3 linked regions of the Homo sapiens genome follow. The protein of the gene in region 2 interacts with the protein of the main gene of each other region in a pairwise test. Each region holds a gene or a part of one and is shown on either strand. Other genes may lie near its edges. The genes, in order: CLIC3, SCML4 and RIPOR3.

Region 1 (7,355 bases), on a different chromosome or scaffold from region 2:
TGCCTTAGCCTCCCGAGTAGCTGGGATTACAGGCATGTGCCACCACGCCCGGCTAATTTTGCATTTTTAGTAGAGACAGGGTTTCCCCATTTTGGTCTGGCTGGTCTGGAACTCCCAACCTCAGGTGATCCACTCACCTCGGCCTCCCAAAGTGCTGGGATTACAGGCGTGAGCCATGTGCCTGGCCTAGGGGCCAGGGTTTCAACACACAAATTTTGGGGAGGACACATTCAGTCCCTAGCAGAACCCTGGTTCCTTTTAGGGAAGATGGGCTTTGGGACCAGAATCTGAGCTCTGGTCTGCACACTGCTCCCGAGGTCTCGCTGCCCCCGAGGTCCCGCCGCCCCCGAGGTCCCGCCGCCCCCGAGGTCTCGCCGCCCCCGAGGTCACGCCGCCCCCGATGTCTCGCCGCCCCCGAGGTCTCACCGCTCCCGAGGTCTCACTGCTTCTAGGCTCTCTCCATGCACAGAGCAGATAAATCTCTGCACAAGTTTGCACCAATACCCCAATGCCCCCAGCCCTCCGGCCCCCCAAACAGGTGTGTGTCTCCCTTCAGAACAGAGCTGCTCAAATGTCACTGGGGTGTGGCCCTGTGCAGGCGGAGGCAGGAGGATCACTGGAGCCCAGGAGGTGGAGGCTGCAGTGAGCTATGACTGCGCCATTGCACTCCAGCCTGGGTGACAGAGTGAAACCCTGTCTCAAAAAAAAAAAAAAAAAAAAAAAAAAAGAGCCCCTTGGAAGGGGCCTACAGGGAGGGGTGTTGGGGAGGGAGAGAGTTCTAACCCACCAGTCAGTCAGTCCCAGAGCAGCAGCCTCGGGACCTCAGCTTGGGCCCCTCTAACGCTGGCTCTATGAATCAGGAGCAGGGGCTGCAGGGGACGGGAGGTTTAGGGATAACCCCGTGGCCTCGGGGACCAGGGTCTAGTTAAGGTTAGTGGCTGTGATACTGTTCTTACTTCAAAACATTATGAAATTGTGGTAGAAAATGTGGTATTACAAAAATGTGGTAGAAAATGCAAACAGTGTGGACAGACAGGAAGCAAAACTGAAAGCCTGTTTCTGCCTGTCAGGGGTCATCCCACAGACAGCTCCTTGCGTCTTTTTTCAGCTCTGTTCAAGTAGAGACTCAGAATGACAGATCCTAATGCTGATTTTCTTCCATTTCCTGGCTTCTCCCTGCTTTACTTATTAGCTTGCTGGCGCTGCCATGCAAAGGACCACAAAGTGAGGGGTTTAAAACAACAGAAACTGACTTTGGGAGGCCGAGGTGGGCGGATCACTTGAGGTCAGGAGTTTGAGACCAGCCTGACCAACATGGTGAAACCCCGTCTCTACTAAAAATACAAAAATTAGCCAGGCGTGGTGGTGGGCGCCTGTAATCCCAGCTACTCGGGAGGCTGGGGCAGGAGAATCGCTTCAGCCGGTGAGGCGCGGGTTGCAATGAGCCGAGATTGAGCCATTGCACTCCAGCCTGGGTGACAGTGAGACTCCATCTTAAAACAACAACACCGCGGGGCGCGGGAGCTCACGCCTGTAATCCCAGCACTTTGGGAGGCCGAGGCGAGCGGATCACGAGGTCAGGAGATCGAGACCATCCTGGCTAACGCAGTGAAACCCCGTCTCTACTAAAAATACAAAAATTAGCCAGGTGTGGTAGCGGGCGCCTGTAGTCCCAGCTACTTGGGAGGCTGAGACAGGAGAATGGCGTGAACCTGGGGAGGCAGAACTTGCAGTGAGCCGAGATTGTGCCACTGCACTCCAGCCTGGGCGACAGAGCAAGACTGCATCTCATTAAAAAAAAAAAACAAAAAAAACAGAAGCTCACTGCCTAGCAGTCTGGAGGTCAGACATAGCACCTAGGCTTGGGCAGGGCTGCTTCCTCCCAAGGGCCTTGGAGAGCATCCGCTTGGCTCCCAGGCTTACAGATGTGCCACCCTGATTTCTGCCTGCGGCCCTCCCTGTGCATCTGTGTCCAAACTCGCCTTTCTATACTGACATCAGTCATATTGGATCAGGGCACATCCTACTCACCACATTTTAACTTGATAACTTCTATAAAGACCCTATTTCAGCCGGGTGCGGTGGCTCACACCTGTATTCCCAGCATTTTGGGAGGCCAAGGTGGGTAGATCTTCTGAGGTCAGGAGTTCGAGACCAGCCTGATCAACATGGTGAAACCCTGTCTCTACTACAAATACAAGGAAAAAAAAAAAAAGCTCAGCGTGGTGACGTGTACCTGTAATCCCAGCTACTCCAGAGGCTGAGAAAGTAGAATTGCTTGAACCCAGGAGGCAGAAGTTGCAGTGAGCCGAGATTGCACCACTGCATTCCAGCCTGGGCAACAGAGCAAGACTCTGTCTCAAAAAAAATGTTAAAAAGCCCCTGTTTCCACATAAGGTCACATTCTTTATTTTTTTTCCAAGATGGAGTCTTGCTCTGTTGCCCAGGCTGGAATGCAGTGGCACTATCTCTGCTCACTGCAACTCTGTCTCCCGGGTTCAAGCACTTCTCCTGCCTCAGCTTCCCGAGTAGCTGGGATTACAGGTGCCTGCCACTATGCCTGGCTAATTTTTGTATTTTTAGTAGAGACGGGGTTTCACCATGTTGGTCAGGCTGGTCTCAAACTCCTGACCTCAGGTGATCCACCCCCCTCGGCCTCCCAGACTGCTGGGATTACAGGCATGAGTCACCGTGCCCGGCCCATATAAGGTCACATTCTGAGGCACTAGGGGTTAGGACTCCAGCCTAAGAATTTAAATTTAAGGGGACACAAGCCACGCCATTTACCTAATCTCAGGCCCTCCCTGCAGTGGGCATGCATGGAGTCACCTTTTCCGTCCTTCTCCCTGGACACAACTGGAGTCTCCCATAGACAGGGTGGTGGCCGTGCCACGGAGCCACGCCACGCCACGCCACGCCACGCAGTGGGGCAGCCAGCACTCACTTGCCCTTCACAGGGAAACCGGCCGGGTGTGGCAGCTCGCGCCTGTAGTTCCAGCACTGTGGGAGACCAAGGCAGGTGGGTCACTTGAGCCCATGAGGTGGAGACCAGCCTGGGCAACATGGCAGGACCCTGTTTCTAGTAAATAAATGAATTGATTAAACCATAAAAAAAAAAGGAAGCCACCGGGCTGATTCCCAGGTGGCGAGGGCACAGGGGGGTGTTGGATGGCCACTGCCGCTCCACAGTCCACAGCCCACGCCCACAGAACGCAGTGGGGCCGCTGCAGCGGTGAACCGAGTCTTGTTGGTTTGTTTCTTGAGACGGGCGTGAGGTGAATGGTCTTCCTGTGTCTTGTTTTCTTTTTCCTTCTGAGCCACCGGTTCACGGCCTCTGTCCGTGCCGTCATTTTTCCTGTGGGTTTGTGAGGGTGCGTCTGTCGGTGTTAAAGACACAGGATGCCGGGGCAGCAGAGGGGGCTGGGGGCCTGGGGCTTCTCTGTGGTTGGCCATTTGCCTGCCAGGGATGTGGGAAACCAGCAAGCGGAGCTATAACCACAGTGTCCAGAAAGAGCTGAAATACTAGGGCTTGGAATCGAGGTGGAGGCCGGATGGAGGGAAATTGAGGTTCAGGACACCAAAGGATGGGGCAGCCACATGGTATTTCCAAGGCTCTGTGTCCAGGAGCCCCGACTGGCGTGGTATCCAGAGAAGCATCAGGCTGGGCTGACTGGGGCAGCACTGGAGTGTGTTCCACCGGGGACGGATGAGGGGCCCGTACCAAGGCCCTGGGGAGAAGGTGAGCAGGAGAGCAGTGCCACCTCAGCTGCCCTGTCCAGGCTGGTGAGGCACCACACCGCCTGGGGGAGGTGTGGCCAGGCCAATCCTGTGGGCACCCCAGGTCTCTGGGTGGAATCTCCCCTCGGTGTACCTCCCTGGGGCTGCACCCTAAAGCGTCAGGGCCAGGTGGGAGGAAGGCACAGTTGGCGACCCCAAAGGGCCAGACTGAACTGTGGGTTCCAATCACGCCAGGAGGCTCAGCGCAGGCTCACACCTGTGGACCACCACCCTCCCCTGGCCTCTTTCTTCCAGCCACGCAGGCTGTGGCTTCTAACCCCTCTCCTGCTGCTTCTTTTTAAAGGTTAAGGGGTTGGGGGTAAGAAACCTGCGCTGAGCGCCAGTGGGAGGGATGGGAGGTGGGGTGGAGACCTGCACTGCCGGCCAAACACCAAAGCCAGGCTGGCCTCCCCGCCCTGTTGCGGGCAGGTCTGGAATTTGAGCCCTGCCCTGAGCGGGGAGGGCCCTGCCTGACTGCTCCGTAGCTGGGAAGGGGCGGCTCCCCCAGGTGGGCTTATCACCCTCCCGATGCCCTGGTGCTGCAGATGGGGAACTGAAGCCAGGCTGGGCAGGCCATTTCTCCTGCTCACCCACACCCACTGGCTTTCTGGGCTGGGAGCCCTGACAAGGGGTATTTGCGGAAGGGAGAGCCATAGGGCAGGGTCTGAGCTGGGTTCACGGTGGAGGTGGTCCTGACCCAGAGCCGCCCCCTTCCCAGGTGACACCCCCTGCACCCTTCTGGCCTGTAGGCTCTCCCTATGCCCTGCCCCCTGGTCTCCACCCACCACGCTGGCTCCCAGCACACTCAGTACCGGGTGGGCGGATCTCCGTGCACACCAGACTCAAGTCCAGGGCAGCCCCCCACACCATTCCGCCACCCTGAGGTCACACCCTCAGGCTCAGACACCCCGGGGCCGGGCTGGCGTTGCTCAGGCAGCTGGTTCTGCGCGCTGGGCAGCTTCATCTGCCCGCCTAGGTGGCTCCACGGGGCGGGCCCCTCGGCCAGGGAGGGCGGGGCGCACAGGGAGACTTAAAGAGCTCCCCAGGTCCCCACCCGCGCCTGACCGCGGCAGCTCCCACCATGGCGGAGACCAAGCTCCAGCTGTTTGTCAAGGTGCAGGGCGGACTCAGCTGCGGGGAGGGTGTCTGGGAGGAAGCGCTTTTCTGGGCTTTGCTTTCTGTGGCAGGCTGTGGGGTGGGCCTCCCAGTAATGTCTGAGCCCCTTCCTGTGGGTGGCTAGGGGGACTCAGGCAGCCCTACAGAGGCTGAGTAAAGTGGGACCCAGCGAGTCACCCAGAGAGGGGTCAGTGGCCCTGGTCCTGCTCCCAGCCTTGGCTCCTGGGCCCAGCCCAGTCTTCTGGAGGAGAGCTCCTTGGTGGGGAGGTACCAAGCAGGCTGCCAACAGTGGAGCTTACGGTCGGTGTTCCAGGATGGGGGGTGCTGGGCCAGGCAGCCCCATCAGCTCTCAGGTCGGGGACTGGGGTGGGGGACTGATGTGCTGTTGGCCACAGTGCCCAGTCTCATGTGTGAATCACTCAGAAAACAGCTTGTGAGGCCCACCCCACCCCTGCAACCAGCTTTTGGGGACTGAGCCCAGGGGCCTGGCCTCTGTCCAGGCTCTGACAAGATTCCAGGGGCCAAGCCTGCCCCAGGCCTCAAGGCTCCCAGCAGCTCTGCCCCCCTCCCCACGTTCTGGGGACCAAGTCAAGGGCCCTCACTGGGCACTTGGAAGTCGCGCCGACCAAGCTGGAGCCCTGGCGTCCCTCCAATCCCACTGGCAGTGGGAGGCGGGTCCCGCCCAGCCTGGCGGCAGGATGCCTGGGTCTGCTTCCAGCCCTGACCCCCCACCCCCGCTCCACCCACCCAGGCGAGTGAGGACGGGGAGAGCGTGGGTCACTGCCCCTCCTGCCAGCGGCTCTTCATGGTCCTGCTCCTCAAGGGCGTACCTTTCACCCTCACCACGGTGGACACGCGCAGGTGAGGCCCCATCCTGTGGACCCCCGCCTGGCCTCGCACACTGGTGGGCCGGCCTCCTCCCACCCCGCTGCTGCCCGCAGGTCCCCGGACGTGCTGAAGGACTTCGCCCCCGGCTCGCAGCTGCCCATCCTGCTCTATGACAGCGACGCCAAGACAGACACGCTGCAGATCGAGGACTTTCTGGAGGAGACGCTGGGGCCGCCCGAGTGAGAGCCCCGGCAGGGTGGGAGGGGAAAAGAGGGGGGCCCAGGGAGGACGCGCGCAAGACAGAGCCCAGGAAGGCGCTGTGGGGGTACTGTGGGGCCGGGACGGGGCTGCCCCCAGTCTAATGGAGTCCCACCCCCTCATCCCGCAGCTTCCCCAGCCTGGCGCCTCGTTACAGGGAGTCCAACACCGCCGGCAACGACGTTTTCCACAAGTTCTCCGCGTTCATCAAGAACCCGGTGCCCGCGCAGGACGAAGGTGAAGCGGGGTCAGGGGGTCGGGTGCCCAGGCGGGAGGGCGCCCTGGGCCTGGTCCTCACCGCGCCGCCTGCCCCCTAGCCCTGTACCAGCAGCTGCTGCGCGCCCTCGCCAGGCTGGACAGCTACCTGCGCGCGCCCCTGGAGCACGAGCTGGCGGGGGAGCCGCAGCTGCGCGAGTCCCGCCGCCGCTTCCTGGACGGCGACAGGCTCACGCTGGCCGACTGCAGCCTCCTGCCCAAGCTGCACATCGTCGACGTGAGCACGGAAGGTGGGCGGGCGGGAGGGTGACCGCGGCGCGCCTGGGGGACGGCAGGTCCTGACCGCGCCCCGCGATCCTGCCCGCAGACGGTGTGCGCGCACTTCCGCCAGGCGCCCATCCCCGCGGAGCTGCGCGGCGTACGCCGCTACCTGGACAGCGCGATGCAGGAGAAAGAGTTCAAATACACGTGTCCGCACAGCGCCGAGATCCTGGCGGCCTACCGGCCCGCCGTGCACCCCCGCTAGCGCCCCACCCCGCGTCTGTCGCCCAATAAAGGCATCTTTGTCGGGAGTGAGGGTGTCCTGACATCTGAAGGGCCAGAGGTCTCGGGATCACTTCCCATCCCCAAACCCCAGGGTGGGACGCTCAGCCCGATAGCCCAGAACCACAGGGGCAGGAGCGCCGGGGGTCGGGCCGGTCCCATCCTCCACGCTAAGAAGGCGCAGACTCCAGGCCTCCTGCAACCGGTGGCCTCAGGGATCTCCAGGACCGGACTGGGCTCCCAAACCAGTCAGGCCGGGGTGGGGCGGGGTGCCCCAGGTGGATGGGGGCTGGCACATTCCTCAATCCTGTCCCGGGGCAGGCGCTCCCCTCCCCGCAGGGCACTTCCAGTGTCTCAGGGTCTACACGGGACTTCTGTCTGCATCCTCCCACGGGGCTCCGTGCCCTACCTGGGTGCGGCCTGGGAGGGTGGGAACAAAGTTCTAAGCCTTGGGGAGCCCTGGCCCTGCCTGGCTGGGCCCCTCTCAGCTCCTGGGCTGGCAGGGCTGGAATAGCTGGACGGTCTGAGAGTGCTCACCTCCCTCCGGCCCAGCAAGGAAGTCTCCAGGGAGCTGAGAGGCTGCAGCATCTGTTCACATCCTGTGGCCCTACACCCAG
Region 2 (7,601 bases):
ACCAAGCCGTTTAATGTCTCTCCCAGGGGCTGATTTAATCCCCCTCTTCTCTCCTCACCTGTCTGCTTTTGAAGGCAATGAAAACATTAAAAAATGTGTAAATCTAAAACTAGCCTTTTGAGAGATGGCAGAATTAAGAAATAAGATGTCTAGGGAGGCATTGTTTAAAAGTTCCTTCTTAGAAACATCAGATGTGCCCACCAAAAGAAAGAAGCTTGTGTGATCACACCAAAGGCAACTGCTTTCACAAACTTCATCCACAAAATGTTAGACAAGATTTTACGCTCCATGATAATCAGATTAAAAGAGGGTCTTTTCTCATCTCCTTTCCCTTCTTTCCCATTCCATCCCCACATAAAATCTGAGGGCTCAGGGGAAGAATGACACTGGAGATGCTTGGTATCCTAAGGCTCCCAGCCCAATGAGGGGTAGTGTCACCTGCCACGCTCTTCAGGACTTGTGGAGTGGGATGGGCACATCCCGGCTCCCTGGCATCTACCCATGTGATATTGAGGTTTCCGAGGGCAGGGACTTGGGGAGGAAAATTGTCCTGCAGATCCCTAACAGGGCCCCTGTGAGGGCTTTCAAGCTCCAGCCACCACCTCTGCCTGGACCAAAAGTTCTTTAAGGTGCGTGTCATAAAGGATGTGTGGACACATGTGTGATGTGTCCTCAGGCCACACAAAATTGTAAACAGACCTACGAAGCACTCTAACATTTAAGCCCCCAGACTCCCAGAAAGGTTATTCCTCTCCGAGCATTCCTTGTTATGATTTCAGGGAACTTCAGTTATGTTTCCTTAAAAGTATTGAAGTATTTGAGATCCAAAATTGAGATTAAAAATACATAAACAGCAGAGATGATTTTCTCATCATTTCAAATTTTAAAAATTAAAAAAGTCTATCTTTGTACTTTGGGGTAGTGCTTGAATTTTTTAATAGGAAAGTGTTACTGAGTATTTTTTTAAAGTCAATATTGTTTTGAACTCTCATTATAAAAGTTCTTGCAGCAAGTGACAGTATTTGGGTCTGGCTTGTTTTCTGTGGGCTGAGCTGCTTAGCTTACCTGCTGCTTGCTAGAGGAGACAGCCTTTCACCCTCACCCCCAGGAGTCAAGAACCAGAAAGTGAAACTGCTTCTGCTGATTTCCCTCGCCTCGAAAACACACCACCAAAAGCAAAGAAATGATGAAAAGCAACTTACTCGTTTCGCTTATTGTTTTCTTGTCTTTCTATTACCGTTCATTTACTCTTTTCTTTTTTTCTTTTCTTTTTTTTTTTTTGCAGCAAAATAAAAGTAATTTTGGGGACACAGGGAAGAAATGTAAACATGTTATACATGAAAGAACTGGATTTTTGTGGGCTTTGCACTTTTGTTATAATTCCACAAATGAAGCAAACTGATGAATTTACCAAAATATTTCAGAGCTCATCTACGTACACAATTTAAAGAGCTAAAGAAAACACATTCATATTTTTTAAAAATTCTGTCAAAAAGCCTGTTTAAAAGTTATAGTTTGTGAAGCCACCAATTTCCCTAAAACTGAAGATTCTACATTAACCTTTTGAGTTTAGACGATCACGCAGTACCGATTTTCTAGGTAATCTTCACCCAGCTGCTGTTGCTCAAACAGCCCCTCATTTTATCAGACTAGTTCTACCAAGCAACACAAAAAATGCTCCACACAAATATTATACCCCCCAGATAGTTTAACACACTAAGAATTCCTTTGTAGTTATTTTTATGCTTTCACTCCAGATATTCTATTTTGCTTTAAAAAAAAAAAAGTGGAGAAAAAAAGCAGCTATATCCCTCATTCTTCAAAAATGGTTCCTCTGGTTGAAAAGAAAGAAAAACAGCATATAACAAATACCCTGATTCTGAAGTGCCTGGATTACTTTCTCAAGTACTGTAGTGTCTGAGATCAGTAAAAAACCACTTTCTCAGAAAGCCACTGATTGTCTAACCCTCATGAGTACCGTCATGGAATCTAGAGACAACACGAGGAGACACCTCTCGTTCACGATCACAGATAGTGGAAAGAACTTTGACTCAAGCACCTCAACTCAGCAAAACAGCTCAGCAGCCTGCACCCTGGCCTCATCCACCGCTCCTGTCCAGCCAGCAATCAACCTGGAGAGGACCCCTCATGCTTTGGGAGGAGCACGTGGAAGCTGGTTCAAGTCACAGTGCTCCACCTGGGAAGGAGGTGATTTTGAGCTTGGGAAAACTGCCGCTAATACTCCATAGTCACCAGTTTTTTTCCCAAAAAACGAATTAAAACCAGAAACTAGCAGTAAATATTATTCTTATTTATGCCTCATAAATTAGGAAAAACCAGCACAAAGACATGTGAAATATTCTACCTGGGATATTTGAAATAAAATTAAATGGGAAAAAAAACACTTTTACATGTTCATAACATACCAATTTTAATAACCAAATTTTAGGTAAATATTTTTATCCCAAGACATAGTACAATTTTTTTAAAATTAAAAAGCAAAACAAAGCAAAATTATCGTGAAGGGAAAAAATAACTAACCGGTTACTTGAGTTCACATTTGGAAAAAAATAACTTTCTAGGTATTTAAATGCAGAGTTAAAGAGTAATGAACATGTATATAGCCCAAATTTATAAACTATATAATTCAATGTTACATTTTCCCCTCTGAGATCTGGTTAATAAATTAAATGCTGTACTTTGCATATGAGGAACTAAAGTTTACCTACTGGACTCAGTGGTTTTAGTGCAGGACACTCTTGTGCGTTGCCATAGAGGTAGGCATGCAACCCAGAAAAAACTGAAACAGGTAACCTGTCATGCTGACAGTTACAAGAGAAAGATCCCGTGTCAACGGCACGCCTCCAATTGTGCATCTCCCTTACCTACAGCTTGTTCACCAGAGCCCTGAGCAGGTTGTTTACCAGGTCGGGAGTGTTGACTCAGAAGACAGATGACTTTCAGCACATGCAAACCGAGTATTGCAAAAGCTATCTTCCACCCGTGTTAGTAGCTCACAGTTAGTCTCCAGCAGCCCTGCGCTCCAGCTGCAAACATCTCATTAGACTAATGCATTCAGCACAGGCAGAAAACTCGATTTACCATAGCTACAGCAATGAATTTCCATTACGATGACAGCTTCAACCACATCATGTCCGGAAAACCAGCCAACCACTGGCTTTTAAAGAACACACACATTTTACATGCAGAAAACGAGGCCTCTGTGTGTGTGTGTGTGTGTGTGTGTGTGTGTGTGTGTGTGTGTGTGTGTGTGTGTTTTGTGTTTCCTTCCTCTTAGCAGCCTAAGAGAAATGTGCAGTGTAGCTTTTTGTCGACATGAGCTGCAAGGTAATGACACTTCTGCTTCTTTGGTAGTTACATCCTTGTAATAACCTGAATTATGTCACAATGGTTAGAATGGGTGTTTCCAACATTTCAGTTTTCATTACCCCTCCTCTGTTGCCATAGAAACCAGACTGTAACATCGTCTCTTTGTCCCAATCCTGCAGCAGTGTGGGCCAACACCAGGCTTATAAGACACTGGTGATCTGACAGAGTGAATGTTTGACTTTGGACAAATAAAACAAAAAGAAATATTACAATAGCATCATTGTTCAGGAGACCCTGTGTGATTCCCAGAGCAGTGTGCCTATCCAGGTGTGTGCACACACCATGGTTGTACATATTAAATCAGCGGCTGCCCACAACATATGTGTACAGTTCATTAAAGCCGGCCCTGACTTTGGCTCCAGGCCTGTATGTGTGTGTGTGTAAGCATCTCTACCCACCTCAACGTGGTGGGACCTGCACAGGATAGAAACAGGGCAAGAGTGACTATTCATTCCCATGCCCCATTGCATTTTCTGCAGCAAATCAATATATATCGGCGAAGGGATCTTTTCTTTTCCTTTCTTTTTGTAAAGTGGAGCAGGGCTCCCCATTGCCCATTTCATCCACTCTGGGATATTGGCATATTCACAGGTATTTCCTACAAGATGAAACATCCATTCTACAAACATGTGGCTTACTCCTAGGGATGAGCAGCAAACAAATTTAGCCGGGACTAAATATCAACCAGGGCTAACGAAGGCTTAGGCCACAACCTGGCCAGTTACTGAGAGTGAAAAAAACTGCAATGGACAACTTGAGGTTTCTCTAAATATATGTGTAGAGTCACATTAGAAGTACATAAGAAATCTCTCCTCTGAAATTTATTATGAAAATATAAAAAATTGTTTTAAGTCAAAGCCTTGTAATTAATTGAGCAAGAAGAAATTCACTACTTTAGTTCATTTAATCATCAAATTTTGTTGTTTTGTATGGGAAAAGGCAGGTTTGGTAGTTTGCATTTTCATTTCATATAAGTTGATTTCACTAAAGAAGGAGGAAGAGGAGAAGAAAAGAAAATAAGATGGATGGGCCAGGTGCAGTGGCTCATGCCTGTAATCCCAGCACTTTGGGAGGCCAAGGCGGGTGGATCACGAGGTCAGGAGATCGAGACCATCCTGTGAATGGTGAAACCCCGTCTCTACTAAAAATACAAAAAATTAGCTGGGCGTGGTGGCGGGCGCCTGTAGTCCCAGCTACTTGGGAGGCTGAGGAGGGAGAATGGCGTGAACCCGGGAGGCGGAGCTCACAGTGAGCCGATACCGTGCCACTGCACTCCAGCCTGGGTGACAGAGCGAGACTCCATCTCAAAAAAAAAAAAAAAAAAAAGAAAATAAGATGGATGGGCTAGGTGTGGTGGCTCATGCCTGTAATCCCAGCATTTTGGGACTCCTGGACTTGAGGTTAGGAGTTCGAGACCAGACTGGCCAACATGGTGAAACCCCATCTCTACTAAAAATACAAAAATTAGCCAGGCTTGGTGGCGCTTGCCTGTAATCCCAGCTACTCGGGAGGCTGAGGCAGGAGAATCGCTTGAACCTGGGAGGGAGAGGTTGCAGTGAGCTGAGATCACGCCATTGCACTCCAGCTTGGGTGACAAGAGTGAAATTCCATCTCAAAAAAAAAGAAAAAAGAAAGAAAAAGAAAAGAAGAAAAGAAAAGAAAAGAAAGAAAAGAAAAAGAAGAAAAGAAAAGGAAAGAAAAGGAAAGAAGATGGATGATTTAAGTTTGGACAGCATCTCTGTCCCAGCGACAGCGGTTATTATACTCACACCCGTGGCCTCACACATGCCACACTACACTGAGCTTAAAGCACCTGGAATGGGCTGAGACATTAGACCAATTTTCACTCTAAAATGTTTCTTAGGATTAAAAAAAATAACATTTCTTAAGTAATCAGAAATAATCTCCAAGTCCTGTAAAAGAAGTAAAAGGGTTGGCAGAATCTACCCATAAGAAAGGAGTTGCTGGTTTTCCTACCCAGCTCTGTGAGGGTTTCTCACTCTGATCCTCAGGCCCAACCTCCTTGCCTCCTCCCAGATGGGCTACTGTTGTCCTTGTCCTCAAGGTGGGTGCATGTGGGAAGCACCCATTGTCATCTAACAGGTCAACTTGGTAATAAAGCCTAAAATTGAAATCAACAAAAGCTGGATTGCTTGGGCGCGGTGGCTCACGCCTGTAATCCCAGCACTTTGGGAGGCTGAGGTGGGCAGATCACAAGGTCAGGAGATCGAGACCATCCTGGCTAACACGGTGAAACCCCGTCTCTACTAAAAATACAAAAAATTAGCTGGGAGTGGTGGCAGGCGCCTGTAGTCCCAGCTACTTGGGAGGCTGAGGCAGGAGAATGGTGTGAACCCGGGAGGCGGAGCTTGCAGTGAGCCGAGATCACGCCACTGCACTACAGCCTGGGCGACAGAGCGAGACTCCGTCTCAAAAAATATATATATTTTTTATATATATGTATATATTTAAGTAAACAATATTTATTTACTTAAATATGTTATTCAAAATATTTGATATTTAATAAATTATTCATTAAATTATGTAATTTAATAAATTTAATAAATATGTAAATATATTTATTTAAATATATCTTTATATTTTTATTTAAATATATTTACATTTTTATTTAAATATATATTTACATTTTTATTTAAATATATATTTGTTTTTTACTTAAATGTATATTTTTATTTAAATATATCTTTATATTTTTTACTTAAATTTTTTTATTTAAATATATCTGTATATACACACATTTATTAAAATATATATATTTAAACTTACTGGGATTTCTTTCTTCATGCAACCAGGAACATAGCTTTTAATAACTTAAATCAATATTTTAAAAAATCCTAAATGTTTTTAATTCCAAGAAAAATTTAAGTTAAACATGTAAGAAAAAAGAAATTTGATGGGATGACTGGTATTAGCTGAGGGACCTGCTAAGAAGAAAAGTGACCGCTCTGAGCTAGCATCTCTCTAAGTCTTGTACATCCCTGTCCCATGAAAAGGGTGCTTAGGTTGTGCCACGTTGTTAATTTTCTTTGCACTGTGGTTACATTTCTGTCTCAGACCACAAGCAGCATGTTCCACTCTCTCCACACGAGTGCTACTGGGCTGGTGGTTAGCAGGAGGCAACCAGAGGGAGCAAGTTAATTTGGGGGCGTCCCAAATGCAAATCTACTTAGAGTAGCCTCCATTTGAAGAGTAATCCTTCTGTCAGCTGCTGGTAAAGACACCGTTCACATTGAAAATGGCCTTTGTCCTAAAGAGTTGTGTTTTCCAACACAAGCATCCGATCGAGAGGATTCTGTCTTGGACTGGCAGTCAGTGCTACCGCCGAAACAACCTTTGTTATAACAGTGATAGCTAACATTTACTGAAGAATTATGTGTGAAGCCCTTCCCATTTTGTATCCCATTTATGACAATCCTATGAAGTAGGTATTATGATACCATTCCCATCTTACAGATAAGGAAACTGAGACTTAGGGATGTTAAATAACTTGCCCAAGGACACACAGCTTAGAAGTGGTAGACACAGGTCTGACCCAGGCAGTCTGTGCCCAAAGATACTCTAATTAATCATTCCACCTCATGGATCCTGGCACTGCCACTTGTTCCAGCCCTACCACTAACCCAATGACATGGGTGAAATCATTGACTTTCTATAACACGGGACAAGGAAATAAGGGACTAGATCATCTTTGTGGTCACTTATGGCTCTGACATTTCACAAGCCTAAGAACTGCTTTATCTCTAACTCAAAACATCGGTCTGCTGAAACAGGATGACGCTTTGGGTTGGAGGAGTGCTTAGTTGTGATTATGGATATGGCCATAATTACAAAGGGGCAAAAAGTGTCCTTTCTCTCATTAGGATAAGACCTAGTAAACTAGAGCTTTGGATATCAATTTGGAGCAAAGGTAGGGAGGAGAGAGCATGGAGAAAGAACACGAAGAAAAGCTAAGATTCCATTTCTGTAGTAAGGAAGGGAGAACAGCCTCCCACACTCCAGAGGCCCCACAGCTTCCCTTCCACATCATTCAACACAAGTTTGAGAACCTTAGGGGCTATGGAAAGCATAAGGCTTATGATTACCATTTTGCAGCAAATAGTTAACCTAATTAGTCAGACTACACAAGAGTGGGTGCCAGATCTCTTGACTCCCCAGTCTGTCGCTTCTTCAACCCAAAGGCCTGCCTTTCA
Region 3 (7,102 bases), on a different chromosome or scaffold from region 2:
GGAGGGGCCCAGGTGTAGAGTTGGCTCCAGGGACCTGGGCCCAGAGCCAAAAGAGAATGGCCGCCTTTCCATCTGCAGGTGGCTCTCCAAAGTGTCTGCTGCTTTGGGAAGACAGACTGGGAGTAGGATCGGGTCCTCCCGCTCCTCCTACACAGGGCTCTGGTGAAGGCTGTGAGGCCACATCGGTGTGGAAATGTCACACTGCCCACTGCCTCTAACCCCAGGGTCCCAGGTCATGGCAGCCTACTCCTTCCTCAGCACCCTCATCTGAGGCCAAGCAATCTGTCACTGGGTTGGCCCCCACCTCAGTGTTTCCTACTCTCTAAAGTCTGTCACATGAAGATGAAGGCCCTTTTTTTTTTTTTTTTTGAGACAGAGTCTCACTTCGTTGCCCAGCCTGGGGTGCAGTAGCACAATCTCGGCTCCCTGCAGCCTCTGCTTCCCATGGAGGCCTTGTTTATATACCCCCATACCCAAAAAACAAAATACACCTGACTTCAGTGGATCCTTGAAGCCAACTACTAGTTTTCAGGAACTACAGAAGACAGAGAAATACATTAAACTACCGTTAAACTTCCTGCAAGCAGCAAAGTCTAGATAGTCTAGGTCAACCTGGGATCGATCAAATTAATTGCAAGCAGAGAAAGAAACGGGGAAAAAAACCTTTAGATTGATTGGAAGCCATCAGCCAATCACAATGTGTGTCCTTATGTAGATACTATTTTAACAAAAAATAAAACAGGATGCTTGAGGCTTGGAAATTTGAACATAAGATATATGATATAAAGGAATTGATAGTTAATTTTTTAGATAAGATAATGGTGTTAGAGTTGTGATTTTTGAAAGAATTCTTAACCTTTTGACACATATAGTTAACTATTTAAGGTCAAATAGGATGCCTCAGGTTGCTTCAAAGTGATACAGGGGAGTGGAGGGGAAAGGGGCAGGATTGGCCATGGGTTGATGGTGGTTGGGCTTGGGTTATGGGTGCAGGTGGATTCATTATATTGCTCTGTCTACTTTTGCAAGTTCAAAAGTCTCCAAATAAAGAGTTAAAAACAACCACAAAGTAGGCGGATGGGCTCCAAGAAGGGCTATTGGCAATGGAACTGGAGATTTCCTCTCTAGTCTGGAGCTGAGACCATCAGTGTAGACTATGCCCTTGATGTCACCCTTCCTGAACCCCTCAGGGTGTGGCGCCTTAAACGTACAGTAGTTACAGGCAAAGAGTGAAAAAGCAGAGAGGTCCACTCTCTTGGTTTTCAAATGGACTGAACACAGTGACCCATTACCAGGTAGCCATGAATATTAATTGAAAGTAAATAAGGATGACTATCAAAACACTAAGAAAGGCTGGGCGCAGTGGCTCACGCCTGTAATCCCAGCACTTTGGGAAGCCAAGGCAGGCGGATCGCAGGGTCAGGAGTTTGAGACCAGCCTGGCCAACATGGTGAAACCCTGTATCTACTAAAATTACAAAAATTAGCTGGGTATGGTGGTGGGCGCCTGTAATCCCAGCTACTCAGGAGGCTGAGGCAGGAGAATTGCTTGAACCCAGGAGGTGGAGGTTGCAAGATCGTGGCACTGGACTCCAGCCTGGGCAACAGAGCAGAACTCTGTCTAAACAGACAGACAAAAAACGCACTAAGAAAAACATTCAGCGTGCAAGTGACATCTCAGAGGCCTAACAGATGTGTTGCTTTGGAAGCAGCAAGGTGCATTCATGTGTGTTAGATCGTAGCCCAGGTCCCTCCATCAAAATAGCTCACAGCTACTGCAGCCCCTGGCACTCACTTCTTTGTACTTTTCCATGAGAACACCAGCTTACCTATGCCCACACATCTGTGGCCAGGGTCTGCCACCTGCCCTGGACAACGTACCTTTTCCCGGAAGCTTCTGTTCCTGACTGCACCAGCCAGGCGAGCGCTGGCCGCCCTGCACACCCTCGGAGTGCCGTCCAGCTGGAGCAGCGCCCAGGCTCTTAAGGTCTGGGGCAGAGGCTGGAGCTGGCCCAGCCGCTTCCCCTGCAGCTTCCGGACCACCTTGGCCTGTCCCGCACAGTGAAGCTCCTCGATGAGTGTCACTAGAAGACAGGAAAGAGGTGGGCCCAGGTCCCCTGAATGGGAGTTTGGCAGGACAGCTGCAAGTTTGCTTGGCTGCTGCCAGTAGCCACAGAGGAACAAATCCCAGACCCACCGGGATGATCACCAAGGCCCAGCCTGGACTAATTTCACAGGGAGCTCCTGGAATCTCCAGGAAGGCCTTTTAACAAGGGGTCAAATATGCTCCATAAATTAATAAAACCACAGCCCACACTTCCAGGGACTCTGGCCAGCCAAGATCACCCTCCTACCCAGCTCTGACCTCTGTTCCGTGCTTTTTAAAGCTGACTTCCCTTGGAGCTAATATCAGCCCCCATCGGCTGAACGCAGAATCTCATTAAATCGGGGTTCCCAAAAGAACAGTTGGCGGGGATGGATGTAGTGGTTCTGAATTATAACCTGAGAAACTGCATGTGACAGGGCTCCGTGGATATTCCTCTGCTATGACAGCCACCCACCCCAGTCTTACCTTCCTTGGTGAGCTGGGTGAAGTGCTTCTCCAGGTCAGAGACGCTCTGCCTCTGCAGGTAGCTGTGAAACTGGAACCAGGTAATGATCTGTTCTTCTGGGAGCCCAGCTCCGGGGAGCAGCCCACCACAGCTGACCACCTGCTCCAGGAGCCTGCGGCACGCTGGCCAAAGGGGAGAGTACATCAGGAGAAACTGAGACCTCGACCCTCCACGCTTCTCAGCTGGGAGTAGCCTGGTCAGCTAAAAGGCTTTCTGGGCCGGGCGCAGTGGCTCGCACCTGTAACCCCAGCACTTTGGGAGGCCAAGGTGGGCAGATCACCTGAGGTCAGGAGTTCGAGACCAGCCTGACCAACATGGTGAAACCCCATCTCTACTAAAAATACAAAATTAGCTGGGTGTGGTGGTGCCTGCCTGTTTCCCAGCAACTCTGGAGGCTGAGGCAGGAGAATCGCTTGAACCCGGGAGGTGGAGGTTGTAGTGAGCCAAGATTGCGCCACTGCATTCCAGTCTGGGCAACCATGAGTGAAACCCCATCTCAAAAAAAAAAAGGGTTTCTGATGGCACGAGGGCAGGTGTCCCTCACTGCATTCCCTGTGCTGTAGGGGAGGAGTGTGCCCAGCTAGAGTCAGGACTGTGACTCCAACTCACCCTGAGTCAGACCGTGTTGGGTTCATCCCCATGCCCTGGGCCCCACACCACACCTGGATCAAAATCCCGGAGGCAGGGCCTGGGAATATGCATGTCAACAAGCAGTCCAGGTGGTGCTTGGAACATGACTGTCACCTTTCACTTGCTCCACAGAGAAAGGCAAATTCTGGGGAAGAACGCAGTCCAGCCAGCATTTCTAGATACCCTCGTGGGCCCCTGCCTGCCTCCCTTCCCATAAGGTTCATTCTTTACCCGTCAGGCTCTGGTGGGAGGCATGGAATCTGTCCCCAGAAAAATGCTCTGGCGGCCGGGCGCAGTGGCTCATGCCTGTAATCCCAGCACTTTGGGAGGCCGAGGCGGGCGAATCACAAGGTCAGGAGTTCGAGACCAGCCTGGCCAATATGGCGAAACCCCGTCTCTACTAAAAATACAAAAAAAGAAAATTAGCCAAGCGTGGTGGTGCACACCTGTAATCCCAGCTACTCGGGAGGCTGAGGCAGAAGAATCGCTTGAACCCGGGAGGTAGAGGTTGCAGTGAGCCATGATTGTGCCACAGCACTATAGCCTGGGCGACAGAGTGAGACTCCATCTCAAAAAAAAAAAAAAAAAAAAATGCACCGGCCCACCAAGTTTGCACGCAGCTTCAGGGCTCCACAGACTGCTCAGAAGGCCCCACGTGGAGGCCCCTTCTCGCCCGGTGAAAGGGCGGTGACTCGCACTGAAGCTGAGAAAGCTCCTCCGTCCGATGGCATGAAGACACAGAGGTGAAGACAGGGCTGAAATGAGGCCAGCTGTGGCCACCCTGAAGGCCCTGGAGACTCAATACAGCCTTTCTGTGGGAGGGGACGACAGGACAGAAGGGAACCCACCTATTTCCAGCTGTCCTGGGTACTTCCCTCTGACTCTGTGCTGGAAGGTTTTCTTGAGCTGGTTCAGCAGCGTCGTGGCAGGGCAGGACAGGACCCTGCCAGGCCCTGTGCACCCTCTCCACAGCTTCAGGCACCCCTTCGTCCGCGAGGCCTGTGGGATGACTGAAAGCCCCAGTTCAGAAACCTGAATGGTGACTCGGGGAGAGCACATGACAAGGACCCGAAAGGTTTCCCTCCACTAGGACCTGAGGGGGTAGGGAGGAGGGGACGGTGTGGCTTGATGCGAGGTCCCTTCCCTGCATTCCCATGTGACACGTGAGCAACTTTGGCTCTAAGCATCTTACCAGGGCCACCACCTGCAGTCCCCACAACAACCTGGGAGGGGCTGCTGTCACCAGCCTCTCCTTACAGACAAGGAACCTGGCCTTCTGAGGGGAGGTCCCACGGGGCAGAGGCACAGCTGGGATCACAGCTACTGTTTGACGGCACATTCTGCACCTTGAATGTGGCCTGGGGTTACCTCACTGAACCCCGTGCAGTGCCCTCCTCCTATGCAGATAGGGAAGCAGAGGCTCAGAGATGTGAATCATTTGCCTAGAGTCACACAGCTGACTGAAGAGTGTGCTGCAACTCCAGGACTTGTCTCCCTTACCTCCCCACAAAGAGTGTGTATCTCTGAGCCCAGCCCAGCCACAGCCTCCACTCTGGGCCCCGATTAACTCTGGCTATTAGGAAGGCAGAAGAGGCTCCCCGAGCTTTGATCCCGTCCCCGTGCCGCTCACATAGGCAGCCCCTGGGTGGCAGGCAGCTACTTACTCTCTTCAATGGATGTTGCCTTGCCGACCTTCTCAAAGTCAAGGACAGAAAGTGTCTCCAGAACGTGCTTTTGCTGTGCCACTTCTTCCAGGAGGCATTCCTGGACCAGCCTTGATAAATTAGGGGAGGCCAGTTTCTGGGAAGCAGCCCAGATGCTCCAGATTAGCATGGAACATGCCCACCGAGGTCAGCTGTTACGGCTGTGGCTCCCACCTGCTTGTGCCCATCTCTTCTGTCCCGGGGGCAGCTCCCTGACTGTCATTTGGGGATTCCCCTTTCACCAAGGTGGCTGAGCTAATGGGATGCAGGCTGGGCTGCCAGGGACCACCTTTGCCCCCAGAAGGAGGACCAACCTGCCTGAAAGTGAAGCCAACCCACATTGCAAAGCAGAACTGAGAGAGACCTAGTCCTGATAGCATTTGAACCCGTGCATCCAGCCGAGCCTGAAGCCTACCTCTGAGGCTTTCAGTACCATGAGCCGATAAATTTTCCTGTTGGCTGAGCCAGTTTGCATTAGGGTTCTGGCACCTATAAATGAGAGTCACCACCAAAGCCTTTGGTTTAGGGCTTGGCCTGTGTAAGAGCCACACGAGTATTCACCCAGACCCTGGTCTGCCTCTCTTCCACTGGGGAATAGCTTCAGTCTCACGGGCTTCCAGGATGCAGGTCTGTCACCCCTTCATGCTTCCCACCACCTTCAAGATGAGCCTTTGCAAAGAGGACTCCAAACCCCTGTCTGCCCCTCCCTGACAAGTCCCCTAGCCCAGCCACCTGCAGCAGAGCTTTGCAGACTTGGAGGTGTACCATCAGCAGCACGTCCAGCTCTGGGGCACCGGCTGTGAGTTCCCTGGATGACGCTTTCAGTGATGACGGTGGGGGCAGGGGCCGGTCCTTTCTGAGTTGAATTGAGAACTGGGTGACCATTCCAGTTAGCAGTTCAGCTCCCTCTGAGGGTGGGGGAACCCTCCCTTCCCAGCGAGCCCCAGGTCAGGAGGCCCACTCCAGGTCCCAGGAAGTTCAACTGAAGAGGAAGGGGAAAGGAACAAAGGGTGGCAGCAACTCGAAACAGAGCTGGGAGGTGTGGCCAAGGGCCTGGGGAAGGCAGGGCGGGCAGTCGTCTTCCAGGATGTCTCGTGGAGGTAGAAGAGAATTCCAACTCATCCCAGCTCTGTGACGCTGGACAAGTCTGCCTCCCCAAGGCTCAGGTGACTCATCTATCAAGGGAGGCAGGAGCCCCACACTCAAGGCCGTGAGGGGTGCATGAAATACGGTGGGCAAGAGCGCCTCACACCAAGTCCACTCTGTGGTAGAGGCTAGACCTGCTGCCCGACCCACTCAGCCACTCAGGAAGGGTGGAAGCAAGTGTGGCACGAAACACCGCACTCGTCCGTGGGATTGTGAGAGGCGAGGAGAAGGAATTGAGCCTCTGCTCTTCCATGTGGTGAGATGCGGATGCAGAAGCCCTCGGGGGCTGGGGCAGGTGAGGCTGCGTAGCCTCGAGGGAAGCTGTCATGAGAGGTGTGGGCCCTGTGGTGGGACAGAGGGAACAGCACTGGATACTGCTGCACCTTGGTTAGGGGCTAAGAGCTTTTTTTTTCTTTTTCTTTTTCTTTTTTTGAGACAGAGTCTTACTTTCGCCCAGGCTGAAATGTAGTGGTGCCATCTTGGCTCACTGCAACCTCCGCCTCCCGGGTCCGAGTGATTCTCCTGCCTCAGCCTCCTGAGTAGCTGAGATTACAGGCTCTTGCCACCATGCCCAGCTAATTTTTGTATTTTTAGTAGAGACGGGGTTTCATCATGTTGGCCAGGCTGGTCTTGAACTCCTGACCTCAGGTAATCCGCCTGCCTCGGCCTCCCAAAGTGTTGGGATTACAGGCGTGAGCCACTGTGCCTGGCCTCAAAGAACTTCTACTATATACTTGGTGATTATTTTTAAGGTTTAAAAAATAATACTAAAAGCTGGTTCCTTGGAGCAGAAGGCTCAGGGGCAGGCTGGGGTGATCTCACCCACTTCGTGGTCTCTGAGGACCGGCTCTGAGGCAAGTGGGGGATGTGCGGGGATGGCATGGGGAAGGGTGCACGATAGAGTGACAAGAGCTGAGCCAAGGACAGTGGGAGAAACAGACGGGGAGGCTGGCAGGAAACGTGGAGCTCGGGTCACCCGGTGGGAGTGGTGGCCACTGGGTCACTGCTGGAA

The links.
Region 1: the proteins of SCML4 (region 2) and CLIC3 interact in binary tests that used the Homo sapiens proteins (3 or more experiments, as listed by UniProt).
Region 3: the proteins of SCML4 (region 2) and RIPOR3 interact in binary tests that used the Homo sapiens proteins (3 or more experiments, as listed by UniProt).

What each region holds. Positions count from the first base shown.
Region 1 is NC_000009.12:136,994,047-137,001,401, reverse strand, and holds CLIC3 (chloride intracellular channel protein 3), read left to right. Parts: upstream 1-4,833; 5' UTR 4,834-4,858; coding exon 4,859-4,891; intron 4,892-5,644; coding exon 5,645-5,754; intron 5,755-5,834; coding exon 5,835-5,960; intron 5,961-6,109; coding exon 6,110-6,216; intron 6,217-6,296; coding exon 6,297-6,472; intron 6,473-6,562; coding exon 6,563-6,721; 3' UTR 6,722-6,794; downstream 6,795-7,355. UniProt on the Homo sapiens protein: In the soluble state, catalyzes glutaredoxin-like thiol disulfide exchange reactions with reduced glutathione as electron donor.
Region 2 is NC_000006.12:107,821,241-107,828,841, forward strand, and holds the start of SCML4 (sex comb on midleg-like protein 4), read right to left. Parts: upstream 3,074-7,601; 5' UTR 2,886-3,073; intron 1-2,885. UniProt on the Homo sapiens protein: Putative Polycomb group (PcG) protein. PcG proteins act by forming multiprotein complexes, which are required to maintain the transcriptionally repressive state of homeotic genes throughout development.
Region 3 is NC_000020.11:50,590,464-50,597,565, forward strand, and holds part of RIPOR3 (RIPOR family member 3), read right to left. Parts: intron 5,927-7,102; coding exon of another isoform or gene 5,923-5,926; exon of another isoform or gene 5,837-5,922; intron 5,801-5,836; coding exon 5,677-5,800; intron 5,434-5,676; coding exon of another isoform or gene 5,419-5,433; exon of another isoform or gene 5,079-5,418; intron 5,042-5,078; coding exon 4,906-5,041; intron 4,639-4,905; coding exon of another isoform or gene 4,562-4,638; exon of another isoform or gene 4,301-4,561; intron 4,252-4,300; coding exon 4,090-4,251; intron 2,734-4,089; coding exon 2,572-2,733; intron 2,084-2,571; coding exon 1,881-2,083; intron 1-1,880.